Linked DNA regions of Homo sapiens. Changing the gene in region 4 together with the main gene of any one other region gives a genetic interaction. Each region holds a gene or a part of one and is shown on either strand. Other genes may lie near its edges. The genes, in order: TRAPPC13, MAN2A1, TRAPPC10, SLC30A5 and SEC23B.

What was found.
Region 1: changes in SLC30A5 (region 4) and TRAPPC13 together harm fitness more than expected from each alone (negative genetic interaction), as found in Homo sapiens cells (one large-scale study listed by BioGRID).
Region 2: changes in SLC30A5 (region 4) and MAN2A1 together harm fitness more than expected from each alone (negative genetic interaction), as found in Homo sapiens cells (one large-scale study listed by BioGRID).
Region 3: changes in SLC30A5 (region 4) and TRAPPC10 together harm fitness more than expected from each alone (negative genetic interaction), as found in Homo sapiens cells (one large-scale study listed by BioGRID).
Region 5: changes in SLC30A5 (region 4) and SEC23B together harm fitness less than expected from each alone (positive genetic interaction), as found in Homo sapiens cells (one large-scale study listed by BioGRID).

Annotation. Positions count from the first base shown.
Region 1 is NC_000005.10:65,634,566-65,638,710, reverse strand, and holds part of TRAPPC13 (trafficking protein particle complex subunit 13), read right to left. Parts: intron 3,411-4,145; coding exon 3,342-3,410; intron 2,768-3,341; coding exon 2,668-2,767; intron 1,016-2,667; coding exon 931-1,015; intron 1-930.
Region 2 is NC_000005.10:109,786,899-109,791,043, reverse strand, and holds part of MAN2A1 (alpha-mannosidase 2), read right to left. Parts: intron 2,111-4,145; coding exon 1,996-2,110; intron 1,585-1,995; coding exon 1,517-1,584; intron 1-1,516. UniProt on the Homo sapiens protein: Catalyzes the first committed step in the biosynthesis of complex N-glycans. It controls conversion of high mannose to complex N-glycans; the final hydrolytic step in the N-glycan maturation pathway.
Region 3 is NC_000021.9:44,099,121-44,103,265, forward strand, and holds part of TRAPPC10 (trafficking protein particle complex subunit 10), read left to right. Parts: coding exon of another isoform or gene 1-56; exon of another isoform or gene 57-946; intron 947-3,657; coding exon 3,658-3,852; intron 3,853-4,145. UniProt on the Homo sapiens protein: Specific subunit of the TRAPP (transport protein particle) II complex, a highly conserved vesicle tethering complex that functions in late Golgi trafficking as a membrane tether.
Region 4 is NC_000005.10:69,127,909-69,131,831, reverse strand, and holds the end of SLC30A5 (proton-coupled zinc antiporter SLC30A5), read right to left. Parts: intron 3,829-3,923; coding exon 3,700-3,828; intron 2,386-3,699; coding exon 2,215-2,385; 3' UTR 763-2,214; downstream 1-762. UniProt on the Homo sapiens protein: Together with SLC30A6 forms a functional proton-coupled zinc ion antiporter mediating zinc entry into the lumen of organelles along the secretory pathway.
Region 5 is NC_000020.11:18,548,895-18,553,039, reverse strand, and holds part of SEC23B (protein transport protein Sec23B), read right to left. Parts: intron 1,952-4,145; coding exon 1,865-1,951; intron 1-1,864. UniProt on the Homo sapiens protein: Component of the coat protein complex II (COPII) which promotes the formation of transport vesicles from the endoplasmic reticulum (ER).

The DNA.
Region 1 (4,145 bases), 3.5 Mb from region 4:
TTGCCTTCCGCCATGATTGTCCCCAGCTACGTGGAACTATAAGTCCATTAAACCTCTTTCTTTGGTAAATTGCCCAGTCTTGGGTATGACTTTATCAGCAGCATGAAAATGGACTAATACAGCTACTATTCCTCTGTACCACCTTACGGACTCTTACCAAGTGAAATTTGTTCACTGTTAAAAGAACACATGTGTACCACTATGTCTCTGCCTCTGATTACCATGTCTCCCTTGCCTTGTTATCTGTATCCTCCCATTCTTTCAAGATCCTCTTCGCATTCCCTCTCCCCCAAGAAACCTTCCAGATTGACATAATCTCCAGTGATCTTTCATCTTCCATGTTAATGACATACATTAACAAATACTAAACTGCTATTTAGCTTTGACTAGTACATTTTCTCACCCAAGCAATCACAAATCTTGTGGAATAGGAAAAATGTTTTCATGCCTAACATAATACTTTATAACTGTAGGCATTCATTAGTGCTTGTTAATGACAATTAAAAATTATTGTATCAAACGTGCATTTAATGAAGTGCCAAAAACATAATAGATATAAAAAAACCTTTTTTTCTTTTTTTTTTTTTTGAGATGGAGTCTAACTCTGTCACCCAGGCTGGAGTGCAGTGGCGTGATCTTGGCTCACTGCAACCTTCACCTCCCGGGTTCAAGCCTTAGCCTCTCCTGCCTTAGCCTCCCGAGTAGCTGGGACTACAGGTGTGCACCACCACACCTGGCTAATTTTTGTATTTTTAGTAGAGATGGGGTTTCACCATGTTGGCCAGGCTGGTCTTGAACTCCTGACCTCAGGTGATCCACCTGCTTCAGCCTCCTAAAGTGCTAGGATTACAGGCATGAGCCACCATGCCCGGCCTAAAAAAAAACCTTTGTTAAAGACTAAAATACATCCCAAGTAAGAATGTTACTTACTTTTACTAATATGTCTTTTACAACTTGATTGCTATCATTATGAACGCTGATATAACTGGAAAAGGTCTCTCCCAAAAATATATTCCTGTAAAATAAAATAAGTATTTAGGCAGAAATCCATTCAGGTTTTTTTTCTTTTTTTTTTTTTTTGAGACAGAGTCTCGCTCTGTCACCCAGGCTGGAGTGCAGTGGCACGATCTAGGCTCACTGCAAACTCCGCCTCCCATGTTCACCCCATTCTCCTGCCTCAGCCTCCCGAGTAGCTGAGACTACAGGCACCCACCACCACGCCTAGCTAATTTTTTGTATTTTTAGTAGAGACGGGGTTTCACCATGTTAGCCATGATGGTCTCGATCTCCTGATCTCATGATCCGCCCGCCTCAGTCTCTCAAAGTGCTGGGATTACAGGCGTGAGCCACTGTGCCCATCAGGTTTTACATTAAATAATCTGTTTGAGAATCACTAAGAACTTCAAATGGAGAAACATTTACTGAAGGATAGAAATCTGGTGAAATACTGCTTCAACATTCCTTTGTTCACACTAGGCCACTCATTCATTACCTAGTGCAATTCAAAATACAGACGTAATCTATAGAACATGATATATCTTGGCCTTTGACTACTGTACAAAATGCCAACCTCACTAGAGATAAGACTCATTGAAATTAGACCTATGCTAAAGTCTTAGGATTTGTATCTGAATAGGTTAGAGAGAGCCAAGTTTCCATTCTTGAAATAACTTATTCCCTGAATCTAGAAGAGATCTAAGTTACTGATATTGGGGTATTTTTACCAATTTATTTTATTTCCTAGGTTACTTGAATAAAAATCACCAGTGGTTTTATTTTAGTTTTATACTTTTTACATGAATATATTTCCCAGTTTTTCAAGACACTAGTCAATGACCACATTCTGTAAAACTATAAAAACAATCTGTAAAATTTCTTTTTGTCTCAAATTCTGTCTGTTGCAAACAGAGTGGAACCAGGGGCTTCTACCTTATTATTAATCTAGAATAATAATACAGCTAAGGATAACAGAAGAAATAAATTTAGAGTTCCTAATTAGCTGACAAGTCTGATAACTCATTTTGGGAGAGGACTATGATGCAAAAAAACAAAGACTGGCTTCTGAAAAAGATGTTTACATTAGTAGTTAAAAGACTATGTGGCCATTACAAAATATAGTAAGATCTAAAGAAGAAAGTTAAAATTCTATTATGCTAGGAACCACTATTAACATTTTATTTTGGTATATATCTTTTTTTTTTAATAACAGAAAGCCATAATCACATAGTATGATTTTTTAATAATATTTTTGCCCCTCAAATGTATCATGTCCTAGGCGTGGTGGCTCATGCCTGCAATCCAAGCACTTTGGGAGGCTGAGGCGGGTGGATCACCTGATGTCAGGAGTTCAAGGTCAGCCTGGCTAACATAGCAAAACACGGTCTCCAATAAAAACACAAAAATTAGCCAGAGCGGTGCGCACGCCTGTAATCCCAGCTACTCGGAAGGCTGAGGCACGAGAATTGCTTGAACCCAGGAGGTGGAGGTTGCACTGAGCTCAAATGGCACCACTGTACTCCAGCCTGGGCAATAGAGCGAGACTCCATCTCAGAAAAAAAAAAAAAAAGGTAAATGTATCATGAGCATTTCCCCATCCCATGGTTCTGTTTTGAAAACATAATTTGTAATGGCTTTACAAGGTTTCTTATGTGAATATGTCATTCTTACCCAAAATTCTGTGGTAAAGTCAGCATTTCTCCCAACATTAAAACTTCTGCACCATTAACGGTTGAAGGATCATCTCTCATCAGCTGGTTAAAGAGATCTCCTGAATGAAGAGAAAAACATAAAATTCTAACATCTACCCTTTAAATAACTTTTACTTATATAAAGAAATAGCTGGGAGAGATATTTTAAAAAACAACCTCTTGACAAAGATGATATTTAAAAAGTCTAACTTCTAGATTTTAATACAACAAAGCATGTCAAAAAAATTCTGATCTCACAGGGAATGGAAACTTTAGAAACAAAGAAAAATGTACGTCATGAGATAGAAAATATACTAGAGAAAGCCCCAATAATTCTTAAAAAAAAAAGGGAATGCTAATACATACATTGATGCAACATTTGAGGATAAAGGCAATTTTAATAGTATTATGAATATGAATGTATCTTAAACTGTCTCATACTGCCATAGGATATCAACATAATTTGGACTTGTAGAGTATAAGTAAGGCCTGTTACTCAGATGGCCACCTTTCACATGATACAAAAATAGGCAACAAAGAATCCAGCAAATGGTTAGCATAAAATTTACAGGGCTAGGCTTAGTCCAAGGTAATGCAGGCAATTCAGGTTTCAACCTTTCCCTAGGTGCAAATAGAGGAAAGCATGTGCCATACCAGGTAAGTCTTTCTCTTCACATGTTACTGGGATATTGGTGAATAAAGTAGGCTTAGTCAGCCGCATCACTGTGAAGTAAAAAAGTAAAAGAAAACAAAACATTAATACTGCTTAGGGTTAATATTCTCAAGTCTAGTGTATGACATTCATCCATTTTATACTAACATAAAATATAACCTAAATACTTCCTAAATATAATACTACATACTTCCTAAGGTTATCACACATCAGTGATTTATTAAGAATTGTAATGTTACAAAATAAGCACCATTTATTTACAACCTATGAATTATAAAAATTAAATGTAAATACAATATGCATTCATTATAGAAAAACTGGAAAATATAATTTTTAAAGCTTAAAGAGTATTAGGAGCATAAGGCTTTAAAAAAATTCTAAGTGATTTCACCATAAACAATATCAACAAAATATTAACTTTGGAAACTCAGTAAGTGTTTTTTGTTTTTTTTTTGAGACAGGCTTACTCTGTCACCCAGGCTGGAGTGTAGTGGTGCGATCTCGGCTCACTGCAACCTCTATCTCCCAGGTTCAAGAGATTCTCCTGCCTCAGCCTCCTGAGTAGTTGGGATTACAGGAATGCACCACCATGCCTGGTTATTTTTTTTTTTTTTGTATTTTTAGTAGAGACGGGGTTTCACCATGTTGGCCAGGCTGGTCCCTAACTCCTGACCTCGAGTGATCTGCCTACCTTGGCCTCCCAAAGTGCTGGGATTACAGGCATGAGCCACCATGCCCGGCCAAGTGTTTCTTCAAGTAATATTAATTCTGTGTAGAAATTACAA
Region 2 (4,145 bases), about 41 Mb from region 4:
ATATGAAAGCTTAAAAATATTTTTCTCTTTCATTAATATACTACATTTCCTAACTTTCTTCTTCTGGCATTAGAAAGGCAAAATTATCAATTATTGTTTGCTAAGGCAAAGACAGTGAAGGAAGGAGATAAACTAAAGGGAACATCTTTTCTTCTGACCTATTATGGTTCCAGCCCTGCCTCACTGCACCCAGCATAAGAGCACCCAGAGATGGGGCACAAATCACTTATATCAGCATATATTATTCTTATAACCAGCAAAAACAAAGATCTTCCTCCACCAAAATATAAAAAGAAAGAAAAGTTAATAGATGAGAGAACTATGCCTAAAGCCAAATAGATTTACTAATGCCAGAGTTTACTAGGAACACAATATTTAAGGAACAGGCATATAACCCCAAATGCATCAAAACATAACTTATTTTAAGACAAAGAAAACATTTTGTAATTTTATAAGAAATATTTCTTTCAGTGTCATTATCCTTTCATCCTAACTATGACCTGGCAATCTGAAAGCTCCTAAGGCTTCTGCCGTGTTACAGAGAACATTAGTATTACTAAAATAAAAAAACTTATTATCTCGTTCTAAGGAATAAGCTGTATACACCTTATGTCTCTACTTACTAAAGAAATTTAGACAACTAAGACTTTAGTCTATGCTTAACAAAAAGTCTCAACTTTACTAGCAACTATAAATTCTTTTTACATTCATTCCATTTATTTTTAAATAATTTTAATAAAATATATTTAGTTGAAATAATGAATTACTCTTTGAAATTATTGTTTTATCCTATAATTGGCAAGAGGAGGTACTAAATATCTTGATTCTGACAGTTAAAGGTTATATTACAAAAAATAACCACTGTGTGCCTGGGTCAACTAGGAAATGACCAACAAATATTTGGTTATTAAAAACAGATACCTTGCTGTTTAAAGAAATACCAATAAAACATAATGCATTTCTTTATAATTATTAGGTAGCCACCAATTAAATGCCCTGGTTTAAGGTCACTGAACACCCTTCCCATTTACTTTAGCATAAATCAATAGTGCTAAAACAAGGCTGTTTCACCAGCAAAATGACAGTTATCTAATAAACAATTTACAGTAGAAACCTTGATCTTCCAATAATAATAAAGTTTCTTCTTTCATATAAAAATAGGATCAGGGATTAATGAAAACAAGGTAGTTAAATGAAAGGTTAATCAAGAAAGGATATAATCTGAAAATTTTATAGAGATAAGAAAATGTTTTATAAGCTATATATTTATCATGCTATACCTTATATCTGTGAGAAATATTGTTATAATAATTTATTCAGCAGTCAATATACTAAGCACTGTGTTAGCTATTGGCACTGAGCATAACACAGTCATGAAAGAAAATCCATTTTTTAGGAGTTTTTTAATTAATAAATTGATTGCCTCAAAATATACGCTAACTAAAAACCAGAACCATAAAACCAAAAACTATTAAGCCAGAAAGTGGTAAACATTTGTAAGAAATTATGAATTTACCTTGGCTCCGCACTCAGCCTTATTATATTTTTTTGTGGCAGAGAATCTTGTGATTTTTGTTTCAAATCCTATAAAAATGAACAGTAATTTTTTAATTTTACTTAACACTCCATGGACTCATCCTGAAACCAGAAGACCATTCAAATTCAAGTTTAGGAGGAACAGATTAAGGACTTATAAAAAGTTAAATATCAAGGGGTTTCTAATTAAAGCCAAGCAAAACAACTAGTTATAATGCCCCAGTTGCCTTACTAACATCTTAATAGTATTCTAAAACCCTACATATTTCACATACTTTGAAATATTTATAGAAAAGATGAACATACAGGTAATTTATATTAAGTGATAAAAATTCTTTCAAATAATGTACAAAAAATTATATTTCAATGTCTTTTTTCATTAAGCTTCTCATCCTCTTTGCTAATGCAAGAACAATGGAATTACACATTTTTATGATGACCATAGATGAAATTACTAACCATCTCCAGGAAGGTATCAGGAGAGTAAGAGTCGTATGTGAGTTTGTCCTTCAAAATAAGAAGAAATGCAGAATTTCCAATTATCTTCTCCAAAACCATTAACGAATGAAAAAGTCTGTAAATCAAAAATTTTATTAGTCTGAGAAACAATTTAAAAATCTGCATACAATATTTTCAGTTTCATTACTAATAGCCAAACCACCAGTATCTTCATCTTGTATTCAAAGTGAAACCTATAATGAATCTATGACAAACCTGCTCTTTTTTCCCCTAGAACTAAGTACATCAGAAGATATAACTGACAAGAATCCATTTAAAACCGAAAGCTTTCTGGACACACCTGAAACACATAAACATAATCAAACTATGTATACTTTCTATGAATATCGCACCAAATAATAATATCCAGTAGGATCACCCCAATAACTTTGAAGCATTCTATCAAAAAAACAATGATTTGCTACTTTAGAAAAAGCTCTAACAAGGGTTTTAACAATGAATAAAAACATGAGATAATTCAGCTCACAAGAAAATTCAATTCGTATACAAGTCATACCCCAAGAATTAAAATAGATGTTTTGTTTAATTTAGTTTCATGTTCTTGTTCAAGAGAACCAGAACAAGAGTTTTTGACAGATGTGAATAATGAAATTGTCTTTATCCCTGTTAAATTTTTTGGTCACTGAAATTACTAACTATATTCAAATTGTATTTTTATGTCTAAGGAATCAAAAGTCTACTGATTCCAGACCAATTCTGAAATACATCCGCTACTGCTGAAGCATTACTCATGGAAAAAGAACTTGCTTGAAGATTTTTTTTTTTTTTTCCTAATTCAGTTACGTTTCTTGAAGGCTCTACAGACCAGGCATCCATAGGCAAATTCATATTGGAGAAGTACGTAGAAACTCCTCGCTAATCACGTTTTCAATTATATTATTTTTTCCAATACAGAAAGCAACTTTGGATCTATGCCTTGAAGACATTTTTGTTGTCATGCAACAACAACAAGAAAACCTATAAAAGAAGTTAACTTCTTTTTTGCAGAGCATTAATATTTCCTTCAGAGATGTAAGTGATCATGATCAATGTTATTAATTAAATACATTTACATGGCAAATCTATAATTTTAATGCTAAAATCTTATGGATTTGAGTTCATGCCATAATCTAACTAAACTTCCCAACATATTCAAATGTTTTCCTAGACAGCATTAAGTGTTTTCACCATACTAAAACACCATACGAATATGGTTCAGTTATGACAGCAAGACCCTCAATCTAAGTTCCTTTCTATTGTCTACAGGGCTATCTTTATTAGGCAGCCTGAATCTGCAGAGTGAAAGTCATGTTCTCCACCACCTAAAACCAGATGTATTAAAGAGTCCTAATTAAACTGAGTGAAAGCCAGGATCAATGTCTGCATCCTAAAGGCACACATGCAGCCTTCTCATAAGATGAGTACTAAAGACTACAGTATATCACTCCCCAAATGTTTTCTCAGGATGTATAGAGCTGCTTTGCTTAAAACAAAACAAAATGAAACACAGTACATTTGGGAAACATTGGGTAAAACAAAATTCTAAACGTTTCAACATTTCATTAATACAGGATTTTTTTCAGGGCCTCTAATTTCCAAACATACACTTATCCTATTAATACGGAATACGGTTCGGGAAAAATCACTTGGGAATCACAGTTTCTTAGTTTGCTGTTATGGTTGTTGTATTAAGGAGATGTTAGCATGTCTGCCACTATATAGTTTGTCTACATTTTAGGACCCTCACGCTCACCCTGTGTTCCGTTTTCTCCCACCTACCTTAATTACAAGTTAGGAATAATTAGCGGAATTCTAAAACATTTCTCTAAATGACCTCATTACCATTTCTTCTTCCCTTCTACATAAGCCACATTATCTATTAATACTTTTAAGCTGACTATTACAAACATTGTCCCAATCTAATTCATTTTTTTCATGCCATGATTAGAATTAATCTCCAAATATGCCATGATGTATTCTTGCTTTCCAGTTTGTAACTATATACACATTCGATCTATTGTTGACAGCATGCTCTCAGATTCCCCCTACTATGGCAGAGGAGAAAGAAGGGCCTGAATGCCTGATGACACTGCAGAGCTGCCATACCAGAA
Region 3 (4,145 bases), on a different chromosome or scaffold from region 4:
CACAAGCACTCAAGAATGGAAATAACTCAAACGTCCTTCAGCTCGAGAGCGGTTAAACTGGCACATCTGATTCCTCCTCAGCAGTGAAACAGAAGGGACTGTTGACACACGCAGTGCTGTGGTTGGATCTCAAGGGCATTATACTAAGAGAAAAACGCCAGTCCTATAAGGAGGTGTACTGTGTGATTCCATTTCTAAATGACATCCTCAAAATGCCAGCCTCAGAAGGAGAGCGGGTCAGTGTTCCACGGAGCAGTGGGAGGCAGCAGGAGGCCGTCCTCTGTGGTAATGGAGAGTTCTGGGCCAGGGCCGCTGTGGTTGTTACACGAATCTACACATGTGACAAATGCCATAGAATTAGACCCAAAGAATGCCTGCGAAAGCTGCTGAAATCCAGTGGGGTCTGCAGCCTGGTTCACTCTGTAGTGAAATCCAGTGGGGTCTGCAGCCTGGTTCTATCTGTATTGAAATCCAGTGGGGTCTGCAGCCTGGTCCACTCTGTAGTGAAATCCAGTGTGGTCTGCAGCCTGGTTCTATCTGTATTGAAATCCAGTGGGGTCTGCAGCCTGGTCCACTCTGTAGTGAAATCCAGTGGGGTCTGCAGCCTGGTTCTAGCTGTATTGAAATCCAGTGGGGTCTGCAGCCTGGTCCACTCTGTAGTGAAATCCAGTGGGGTCTGCAGCCTGGTTCTATCTGTATTGAAATCCAGTGGGGTCTGCAGCCTGGTTCACTCTGTAGTGAAATCCAGTGGGGTCTGCAGCCTGGGTCACTGTATGGTACCAGTGTCAGCTTCCTGTGTTACACGAGATGGCACAGTTGGGTGAAGCTGGTGATGAAGGTATGTGACCCCTCTACTACTTTTACAACTTCTTGTGAGTCTATAAACATTTCACAATTAAAAAAAAGTCTACTCAGGAGCTGAATTTAATAAAATGAGCACTTTTGACTGCTTTGTGAAGCGTGGCATTTTTTTTTTTGTTTTTTTGCTGTGAGTTCATGGTAGTAAAGAACATGAGTGACATGACTGCGCAGTCTGGCCCGAGTTCATGCCATTGTGGTTGCCCCAGCAGCGCGAGGTCAGCAGCGTAGAAAGGCAGCAGTGTGAAAGCTATGAGCTTGCGGGTGCCCTGAGAGCCACACTCTGAGAACTGTCACTCCTTTGCCTTCCTCCTGACACTCCTAGGGCCTCTGCATGTCCTGTAGTAGCTCCTGTCCTCAAAGGTCCCCCATCCCCAACTACAGGATGTCCACCTCCCTGAGCCCTTCTCTGCTGCTCGTGGCCTTCTGGTCACTCACTCCCCCTGGGCGGTTGCTCGGTATCCTCATGATGGGAAGCTGTGACCTCTTTACCAGGTCTACTGCTACTGGATGGCAAGGATCCTGTCTTGCTTACTTTCATATCTCCAGGGCTAGTCCCAGTGAATGATCACTTAAGTGTTTGAATTGCATTGAATTACATGATGGTTGTGTTTTAATAATTAATGTTAATAATAACACCTGCCATATATTAAGACACTACCATGTCCCAGGAGTGGTACTAAGTGCTTTACATACAAGGGGTCTTCAAAAAAATCATGGAAGATACGTTATGAAAAAACTATGCATGGATTTCAACACTTTTTGCACCAAAATAAGCTCCTACTCACTGAGCAGGATCTAGTTTGAGGCACTAAGAAGGATAAGACATCAGTTTTAAAAGAGCCCCTATCAGAGCAACATGAATTCTGCTAAAATTAAATCAAGAACCAACATTGGCCGGGTGCAGTGGCTCACGCCTGTAATCCCAGCACTTTGGGGGGCTGAGGCAGGCGGATCACCTGAGGTCAGGAGTTCAAGATCAGCCTGGCTAATATGGCGAAACCCCATCTCTACTAAGAATACAAAAATTAGCTGGGCGTGGTGGCAGGCGCCTATAAGCCCAGCTACTTGGGAGGCTGAGGCAGGAGAATTGCCTGAACCCAGGAGGCGGAGGTTGCAGTGAGCCAAAATTGCGCCACTGCACTCCAGCCTGGGCAACGAGCAAAACTCCGCCTCAACAACAACAACAACAACAAAACAACCAACATCAAATTTATGGTGAAGCTTGGGTGGAAGAATGGTGAAATCATTGATGCTTTATGAAAAGTTTATGAAATTCTTTGGACAGTGCCCCAAAGAATTAGTAGTTTGCAAATGGATATCTTGTTTTAAGAAGGGACGAGATGATGCTGAAGATTAAGGCCATAGCAAGCAGACCATCCACATCCATTTTCAAGGAAAAAATTCACCTTGTTCATGCCCTAATTGGAGGGAACTGACAACAGCAGAAATGACAGCCAACACCGCAGACATCTGAACTGGTTCAGCTTATGCAATTACGCCTGAAGGGTGAGCAAGCGTTCCACTCAGTGGGTGCCAAAACCCTAGTACCCAGGTCCGTGGCCGACCAGAGCAGAGCTTCCCATGGAAACTTCAAACACACGGGATCAAGATCCTGAAGCATTTACTCAAAGAACCATAACAGGAGATGCAGTGTGGCCTTCCCAGTACCATCCTGAAGACAAAGCAGACACGGCAATGGCTACCAAGAGGTGGGGTGGCCCCACCAAAGCAGAAGCAGACTGGTCAAGAGCAGAGGCCACAGCAACAGGTTTTTGGGATACTCAAGGCATTTTGCTTGTTGACTTTCTGGAGAGTCAAAGGACAGCAGCGTCTGTGTATTATGAGATTGTTTTGAGGAAGATAGCAAGAGCTTTGGTAGAAAAACCCCTGGGGAAGCTTCACCAGAGAGTCCTCCTCCACCACGACAAAGCTCCTGCTCATTCCTCTAACAAGCCCAACTTCGTGAGGGTTTCTATGGGAAATCATGAGGCATCCACCTTGTGGACCTGATTCGGCTCCTTCTGACTGATTTTGGTTTCCTGATCTTAAGAAGTCTTTAAAAGGCACCCATTTTTATTCAGCTAATAATGTAGAGAAAGACTGCGTTGACATGGCTAAATTCTCAGGCCTCCCAGTTCTTCAGGGATGGACTAAATGGCATCGTAAGCAATGGCATCATTGCTTACAAACATGTCTTGACCTTGGTGGGGCTTATGTTGAGAAATAAAGCTTATATTTTCTGTTTTCATCTTTGGATTCCATTTTTGCATGAACTTTTTGTAGTTCCCTCATACGTATTCTCTTTCCATCCTTAAAAAGCAGCTCTGTGAGGCTGGTGGTGGTCTCAGCACTATACAGCGGTCATTGAGCCTGGAGGCCTTGGGGTGCTCTTCTGAGTGGCAGAGTTGGCTTCAGACCCAGTGGTCTTGGATACTGCCACTTACCAGACAGAACCCATTAACTGCCAAAGTCACCATACTGTGGAAGATGACACAAAAATTTGAAAACAAAATTAAATCATTTATTAACCTCACAGGAAAAATGCAGTTTTCTGTACACGTCCAGCATAATTCATTCTAATCCAGAACTAATTGAAATTGGACTCAATGAAATAGGGGTTGCCACCGTGAAAGTGCATGGCTTTATCTTCAGGCGCAGCTACAAGGCACTGGGCTCTGTGTCCGCAGTGTTTTGTCAGACAGCGTTGGGTGAGAGGATTGGGTAACGACGGCCGTGACTCTCGCCTGAGTACTGGAAGGCCCGTCCTGGATGACACATCGCTTCCTCTCGTTTCAGTTGTCGACAACAGTAGCAACTGGGCAGTGTGTGGGAAAAGCTGCGGTGTCATCTCCATGCCAGTGGCTGCTCGGGCCACTCACAGGGTCCACATGGAAGTGATGCCGCTCTTCGCCGGGTATCTCCCCCTGCCCGACGTCAGGCTGTTCAAGTACCTCCCCCATCATTCTGCACACTCCTCCCAACTGGACGCTGGTAAGGACTTTGGAAGAAAAAGTTTACCTTCAGTATTTGAGCAGGTGAGCACTTTGTGCGAGAGGTGATAAACTTATGACTGAGCAGGTTGGAGAACTAGCGGCGTGTTTTCAGTGCCGGTAGAAACTGGTACTAGAAGCCTCATCCGCTGTTAGAATCTTAGGCACCTGCTCTGAAAGCCAAGCCTCTGTGCACAGAGTGCTCTGTAAAGGGGCAGCCTCGGGTGGCATTCTGCACGTTCAGCCTGGCTCCGTGTGGCTTTGCCCGTCCCCAGGTGAGTGTCGGCGCAGCTT
Region 4 (3,923 bases):
CCGCCCACCTCGGCCTCCCAAAGTGCTGGGATTACAGGCGTGAGCCACCGCACCCGGCCTATTTAGCCTTTTTCAACTTCCACTGCATTTTCACATACATTATACCTTTTGTTCCCATATCCTGTGCTGTAAATTTGAGCAGGTTTTATATAGTTTATATATGAGGAAAAAAAAAAGATACCTCAGAAAGGCTGATTTGCCTAAAGTTGCATGAATTTTTTTTTTTTTTTTGAGATAAAATCTTTCTGTGTCACCCAGGCTGGAGAGCAGTGGTGCCATCATGGCTCACTGCAGCCTTGGCCTCCTAGGTTCAAGCAATCCTCCTGCCTCAGCCTCCCAAGAGGTATGTGCCACCATGCCCCAGCTAATTTTTAAAAATTTTTGTAGAGATGGAATCTTGCTATGTTGCTCAGGCTGTTCTCAAACTCCTGGGCTCAAGCTATCCTTTTGCTTTAGCCTCCCAAAGTGCCAGGATTTCAGGCAAGAGACACTGCACCTGGCCTAGTTGCATGATTTGCATGAGCTGAAATACAGTACCCTGGTGCTTTCAATATTAGAGTTTCCATACTTTATAATTGTACCTCCCCAACCTTCAGCCCCTGCTCTCTCTCACTCTAATATCTCACAATCACATTAATTTTTTTGCTGTTTATATGTCTTCTAAGGGAAATGACAATTTTAACTTTGGTGTAATATTTATTGCACCTATCTACTTAATTTTTTAATGTATAAAAATTGCATTAAAACATCAATATGCAATTATTTTCCCACCACTCAAAAATTTTAATATGTATTGAAGATTTTGGCCAAAAAATATGCAAAAGACAAGGAATATAAAAATAACTTACAACAAATTTCTAAAACCCCTCATATATTAAAATTGGTAAGACAAAAATATGATTTATAATACATGTTTGCCATTGTGGTATATATAAGAAAATAGTACTCATACTAAATTCAATCTACTTATCAAAATTCTTAATATAAGAATGAAAATATTCAGATGTTATAAATAGAAAGACAGGTATTAAAAAGTTTCTTTTGGACAACATTCTTTGGTGCTGATAAAACTGCATGTTATTGTCTATGGTAAAGTCTTTTCAGACTTTACTACATATCTAGTTACAACTGGAAATGAAAAAAATATAAATTAGATATGACTATAGAAAGTAGTTATAGGGTATTTTGATTTCATGGTGCTCAAATGTTTATGAACAAGTTTTACTTATTAAACTTTGAAATAACTACCTATTCTTTGATATTTCTTATATATCTATATGTTCCAGAAATTAGAAAAAAGTTACCTACATAGGCAGAGAATTCAACTGTGAGTTGACAATTATTTACGATTCTCTTAACTGGCTGTTTCACAACGTTATGGAGCTAAGAAAGGATGAAAGCTTACCACTGCTTGGATACCAGCTTGATAAGCAGCTTGGAATGTCAAATATATAACAAGAAAGGAAATATTCTACTTTAAAGGAACATGGTAAGTAAATGAATAACATGGACACAACTTAGTATAAGTTCTTTACCCTAATAAATTAATTATTCATTTGCAAATATTACCAAAAGTAAAAAAAATTTATTTTATAGAGTGGTTGATTTTTGTAATACATCAAAAACTGTGATGTTATACACTTCCCTATTCTCATTGCTTATCTCATATCAGTGGTTGAAGTTTCTCCCAAATAATTTAGTTTACATTTAAAGTGGCAATACAGATTTTACTTAATGGACTTAAGTTATAATTAGAAACCAGTTTTATATACAGAAAATCCATAAATATAGAACTTTTATTCCTATTTTATCTTTAGGCTATGCAAAAAATGGACTAAAAATTTTTCATTTGGGTCTTTGTAATAAACATGTAAATACATATTTACAATGGAGATGCTTCCTGATAGAAAGTAAACAGAAGTAATTTTGGTCTTCACTAGAATCCATCATATCTATTTTTGAAGATGATGTAATACATCATGTTTACTCAAAATTTGATTCCTTTTATACACATAATTTAAATAATTACTCCACTTTTACCATTAATGTTTCATTCTGTATTTAAATTTCCTTCAAGAAAGATTCCTTGATCCAGTAGTAGGGAACTCTGTTTCTGTACAGTTAATGTGTAATTTTTATCCTTCTGGCAATATTACAAATACTGAGTCATTTAATCTTCATTGTTTATTCTCCAGGGGTAATTCTTGAGTTATCTCACATGATGTAAGTACCATCTTTGCAGTATTTCATGGATTCCATTTGTTTTGTCATAGCCAGAACATCATGAAATCCAGTACTTAGGCCAGACATATGTTGAAAGTATGCCTCCTTTTCCACTTGAATTGTTAAATTGTTTACTCCAGCATCTTTAAGTATTCCTGTAACCTGTTATAAAAATCCAGATATTTTGAAGCATTTAGAGTAATGCATTTAGTACACACGTCTTAATATGCTGTACATAGTTGATACGGGTTGAGTATCTTTAATCTGAAAATACGAAATCTGAGACGCTCTAAAATCTGAAACTTTTTGAGTGCCAAGATGGTGTTAAAAGGAAATGCTCATTGGAGCATTTTGGATTTGGATTTTCAGATTAGGGATGCTCAACTGGTAAGCGTAATGCGAGTATTAAAAAAAATAAAATCGCAAATCGAAAACACTTCTGGTTCCAAGCATTTTAGATAAGGAATATTAAACCTGTGTCACATTTTTAAAATAGTTACAGGCCAGGCACAGTGGCCCAGGGAGGCTGAGGCAGGAGGATCGCTTGAGCCCAGGAGTTTGAGACCAGCCTGGGCAACATAGTGAGATCTTGTCTCTAAAATGAATGAGTAAACAAACAAACAAACAGTTACAGTAGTCCAAGATAAATCTTCGAAGTAATATTCATCATTTAGTTAGTTAAAATATTAGACTCTTTTAGGTCAGTAAATTACTGATTTGACATTCACAGTAGAAAAGGAAAACAGCCATTGTTTCCAATTTGGCACATCTAGAACAGGGCTTTAGTAACTATTCTGACCTCTATCTCCAAACATAGCATATACCCTGCCAAGTTGATTATTACTAATTTAGGAATATATTTATAATAACTTATTTTTTGATAATCTACTGGAAACCAAGATTAATCAAACTCATAAATGAATTTTTTTATATTAATTAAAGCTTATCCTCTAAACACAAAACTTCATTTATTTTAGCAATTTTTAGATATAAAACAAATCTAGATGTAAAAAGTAAGCTATATTACCGTTACAGATTTGGAAGATTAGGCCGGGCATGATGGCTTGCCTATAAACCCAGCACTTTGGGAGGTCGAGGCAGGCGGATCACCTGAGGTCAGGAGTTTGAGACTAGACTGGCCAACATGGCGAAACCCCATCTCTACTAAAAATACAAACAAACAAACAAAAATAGGCGGGCATGGTGACGGGTGCCTATAATCCCAGCGACTTGGGAGGCTGAGGCAGGGAGACTGCTTGAACCCAGGAGGCGGAGGTTGCAGTGGGCCGAGATCACGCCACTGCACTCCAGCCTGGGCAACAGAGTGAGACCCTGTCTCAAAAAAAAAAAAAAAAAAAGAGTTGGAAGATTGATATTTCTGAATAGTAAATGACTACTGAGCCATATAACTTATGAGGTGTACAATTTTGGGTATGAATGACCTCAATTAAAATTACTTTAAAAACAAAAGATTACCTGCTGTACTATTCTTTGTTCTAGCACATCAGATGTCACCTGTATATGAATTGTTCCTGCCACAATACTAGCAGAATGACGCCAAAAATGAGGGTCTCGGTATGATATTAATCCTTCAATTTTCTGTATCTGTCAAATAAAAGAGGTGATATAAATGGTCATACAGGCTACTTTACACAACACAATGGAGATGCTTTCTGACAGAAAGTAAACACACAGATTCC
Region 5 (4,145 bases), on a different chromosome or scaffold from region 4:
TAGTACAGTCGGCCCTCGGTATCTGTGAGATTGGTTCCAAGACCACTCCTCCCAATACCAAATTCCATAGATACTCAAGTCCCTCATACAAAATGGCATAGTATTTCATATAACCGATGTACATCTTCCCATACACTTTAAATCATCTTTAGATTACTTATAATATCTAATACAATGTAGAAACTATATAAATCGTTCTTGTGCTGTTTTTTTGGTTTTGTTTTTTGAGACAGAGTCTCACTCTGTCGTCCAGGCTGGAGTGCACTGGCTCGATCTTAGCTCACTGAAACCTCCACTTCCTGAGTTCAAGCGATTCTCCTGCCTCAGCCTCCCGAGCAGCTGGGATTACAGGTGTCTGCCACCATGCCCAGCTAATTTTTGTATTTTTAGTAGAGACAGGGTTTCGCTATGTTGGCCAGACTGGTCTTGAACTCCTGACCTCAGATGATCCGCCCACCTCGGCCTCCCAACGTGCTGGGATTACAGGCATGAACTACCACACCCGGCCTGTGCTGTATATTTTATTTGTATTATTTTTTATTATTATTTCAAAATTATTTTTAACCTGCAGTTGATTGAATCTGCAGAGGTGGAACCCGTGGATACAGAGGGCCAACTGTACTGATACCAAAGGTTCCAGTGGGAAGAGCAGCTGGTCATCCGGCTCTCAGTCTAGGACTATTACTGACAGCCTAGCACTTGCGTGCAAGTGGCTAGCAGACTGGGTGTTAACATGCTGAAAAAAGTTTAAAGTTATAAAATACTTAGGAGTATTAGAAAACTAACACTTCCTAAGTTACTGAAGGAATCCTGAAACACAATTTATATCTTTTCACGACATCAGAAATCATTTCTAATGGTTGGCCATTAGGAAACCAAATCAATAACCAATTTAAGAAGGTAGAGATCATACAATAGAAGAAAAAGCATCACTGAATATAAATATCACCATCATCTTCATTAAAGGATTTTTTGCCATAAAGATGCAAATAATTCAGAGGAGCCATTCCCTTTCTCAGGGCATGAACCCCACTGAGAAAGAAATGGACTGAAAGCTATCCACAGCCATCCTAGGGATCCACAGACACAGCGTAAAGTTCCCTGGGCCATGTTATTTCATCAAAGTACAACCTTAGCTCTAAACACTAACTCTGAAAGAACAGCAGTATGTATATAACTCTGAAAGAACAGCAGTATGTATAAAATATTTACTGAGGAGAAAAAACTAGTTTTGCCTAACTTCGAAGGTAATAATTTACAGTGATTTAAAATAACCACCTGAGATTTTTTTACAGCATATATTATTATTATTATTATTTATTTTTTGAGATGGAGTTTCACTCTGTTGACCAGGCTGGAATGCAGTGGTGTGATCTCAGCTCACTACAACCTCAACCTCCCGGGTTTAAGTGATTCTCCCATCTCAGCCTCCCAAGTAGATGGGACTACAGGTGTGTGCCACCACGCCTGGCTAACTTTTGTATTTTTAGTAGAGATGGGGTTTTGCCATGTTGGTCAGGCTGGTTTTGAACTCCTGACCTCAGGTGATCTGCCCACCTCAGCATCCCAAAGTGCTGGGATTACAGGTATAAGCCACTGCACCTGGCCCATACTTAACAGCAAATATGATTAAAATTAATAAATATACAAATACTCCAGGGATTTACTAGAATAAAAGCCATGGTGCTTTCTAAGCCCAAACTGTGGTTACAAATGTCATTAAAAACCTAACTTAATAAATAAGAGAAGAAAACAAAAACCATAGTTAAGGACAATAATTCTCCTTGTGTGCACATTAAATGTGTATGCCTTTTCTCCAATTTAAAAACAAAAAGAAATTAATTAATTAATAATATCATCTTACCTCACCAAGATAAATGACAATTTGAAAGAAAGTATCCATCAGCAAAATTCTGTCAGCTAGAATGCTGCTGCTATCCAAGAGTACTGGCTGAAGAAAAAGAGAGAGAAAGATGGCATTGGTCTTCCCTGCTCCCCACACAGCAACCACTTCCACCCGACCCTGATCCCATGCCTGGTATCCACAGCAAAGGCTATTTACAAATGGTGCCCAGCACAGTAAGTCACCCCTTTTCTTCCTGACATACTTCCACTTTCTGCTTCTGACTCATTCTCAACTTTGTAGGAAAAATAGGCTCCAAATAATTCCTCATCAATTGAGAACGGAGATTAATGATACCTTTTTTTTTTTTAAGAGTCAGGGTGTTGCTCTGTTACCCAGCCTGGAGTAAAGTGATGTGACCCTGGCTCACTGCAGCTTCGACCTCCTGGGCTCAAGTGACCCTCCCACCTCAGCCTCCTGAGTAGCTGAGGCTACAGGTGCATGCCACCACGCCCAACTAATTTTTTATTTTTTGTAAAGACAGGGTCTCACACTATGTTGTCCAGGCTTAATGATATCTTTTGATCTTGGAACGAAAAATAATTCTGAATATTCTCAGTTTTGTATGTATTTTAGCAATCTCTACAGACATTCTCTGTAGATGAGACAGAATACGGATACCTATATGAAAAGCAGCATTTAATACAAGTTTTTAAAGTTTACTACAAAATATAAATTATGGCTGGGCGTAGTGGCTCATGCCTGTAAACCTAGAACTTTGGGAGGCCAAGGCAGGCAGATCACTTGAACCCAGGAGTTCAAAGCCAGCCTGGGCAACATGGCAAAACCCCATCTCTACCAAAAACACAAAAAATTAGCCGGGCTGTAGTGGCACGTGCCTGTGGTCCCAGCTATTCAGGAGGCTGAAGTGGGAGGATCACCTGAACCTGGAAGGCGGAGGTTGCAGTGAGCCAAGATCGCACAACTGTACTCCAACCTGGGTGACAGACACCCCATCTCAAAAAAAAATACGTTTATTATTTATTTGTAAGTAATATTTTATATTATATAAGTATATAATTTATATTTATATATACATATATAATCATATACATATATATTTATATACATAGTTCTTATATATACATATATAATTTATTATATTTACATATACACATATAATTTTTATATATGTAATTATTTCTTTTTTATTTTTATTTTTTGAGAGGGAGTCTTGCTCTGTTGCCCAGGCTGGAATGCAGTGGCGCGATCTCAACTCACTGCAGCCTCCGCCTCCGGGGTTCAAGTGATTCTCCAGCCTCAGCCTCCCAAGTAGCTGGGATTATTGGCGCCATTCCAAGCTAATTTTTGTATGTTTAGTAGAGATGGGGTTTCGCCACATTGGCCAGGCTGGTCTCAAACTCCTGATGTCATGTGATCCCCCTGCTATTTTAGTAATTATTTCAATAATAAAAGTAAGTGGTACTCGATAAAGAAAATTTTTAAATGTGTACCCAAGTACAACAAATATTGATATTTTGTTTTTTTCCATATAGTTCTTTATTTTTGCAGGGAATATTTAGAAACGTTTCTATTTTGACTTTTTTTCATGTAACATTTTTACATAAGGACTTATCTATTTTATTATGTTACATACTTTTTGTGAATACTGTTGGCCCTCCGTATCGGTGGGTTCCACATCTATAAATTCAACCAATCTTGGACTGAAAATATTTGAAAAAAATATGCATCTGTACTGTACATGTACAGACTTGTTTTCTTGTCATTATTCCCTAAACCATACAGTATGACAATTATTTACATGGTACTTACATTATATTAGGTATTATAACTAATCTAGAGATGATTTAAAGTATATAGGAGGATGTGCCAAGGTTACATGCAAATATTATGTAATTTTATATTAGTAACTTGAGTATCTAAGAATTCTGGTATCTGAGGGAGGTCCTGGAACCAATCTTCCATGAATACTGAGGGTCAACTGCATTTCTCAGGTTACTTATTTATTTTCCTATATTAAACATTCGGATTGTTATTTGATCCTCTATTATAGTAGTTCCTTTACTATTTTTTTTTTTGGCACAAAGTCTACTCTGTATCTAGGAGTCTTTCCTTCAGATACAAGACATGGAATTGTTGGATGTAAGTATACAAGCACAAGGAAAAAGAAAGCATCCAAGTTATTTCCTAGAGTTTTTTACATTTATTCCTGCCTTTCACAAATAATAGCTTTATATGTCCTTTGACATTTTCCTAAAGGTATTTTTTAATAGAAATAATG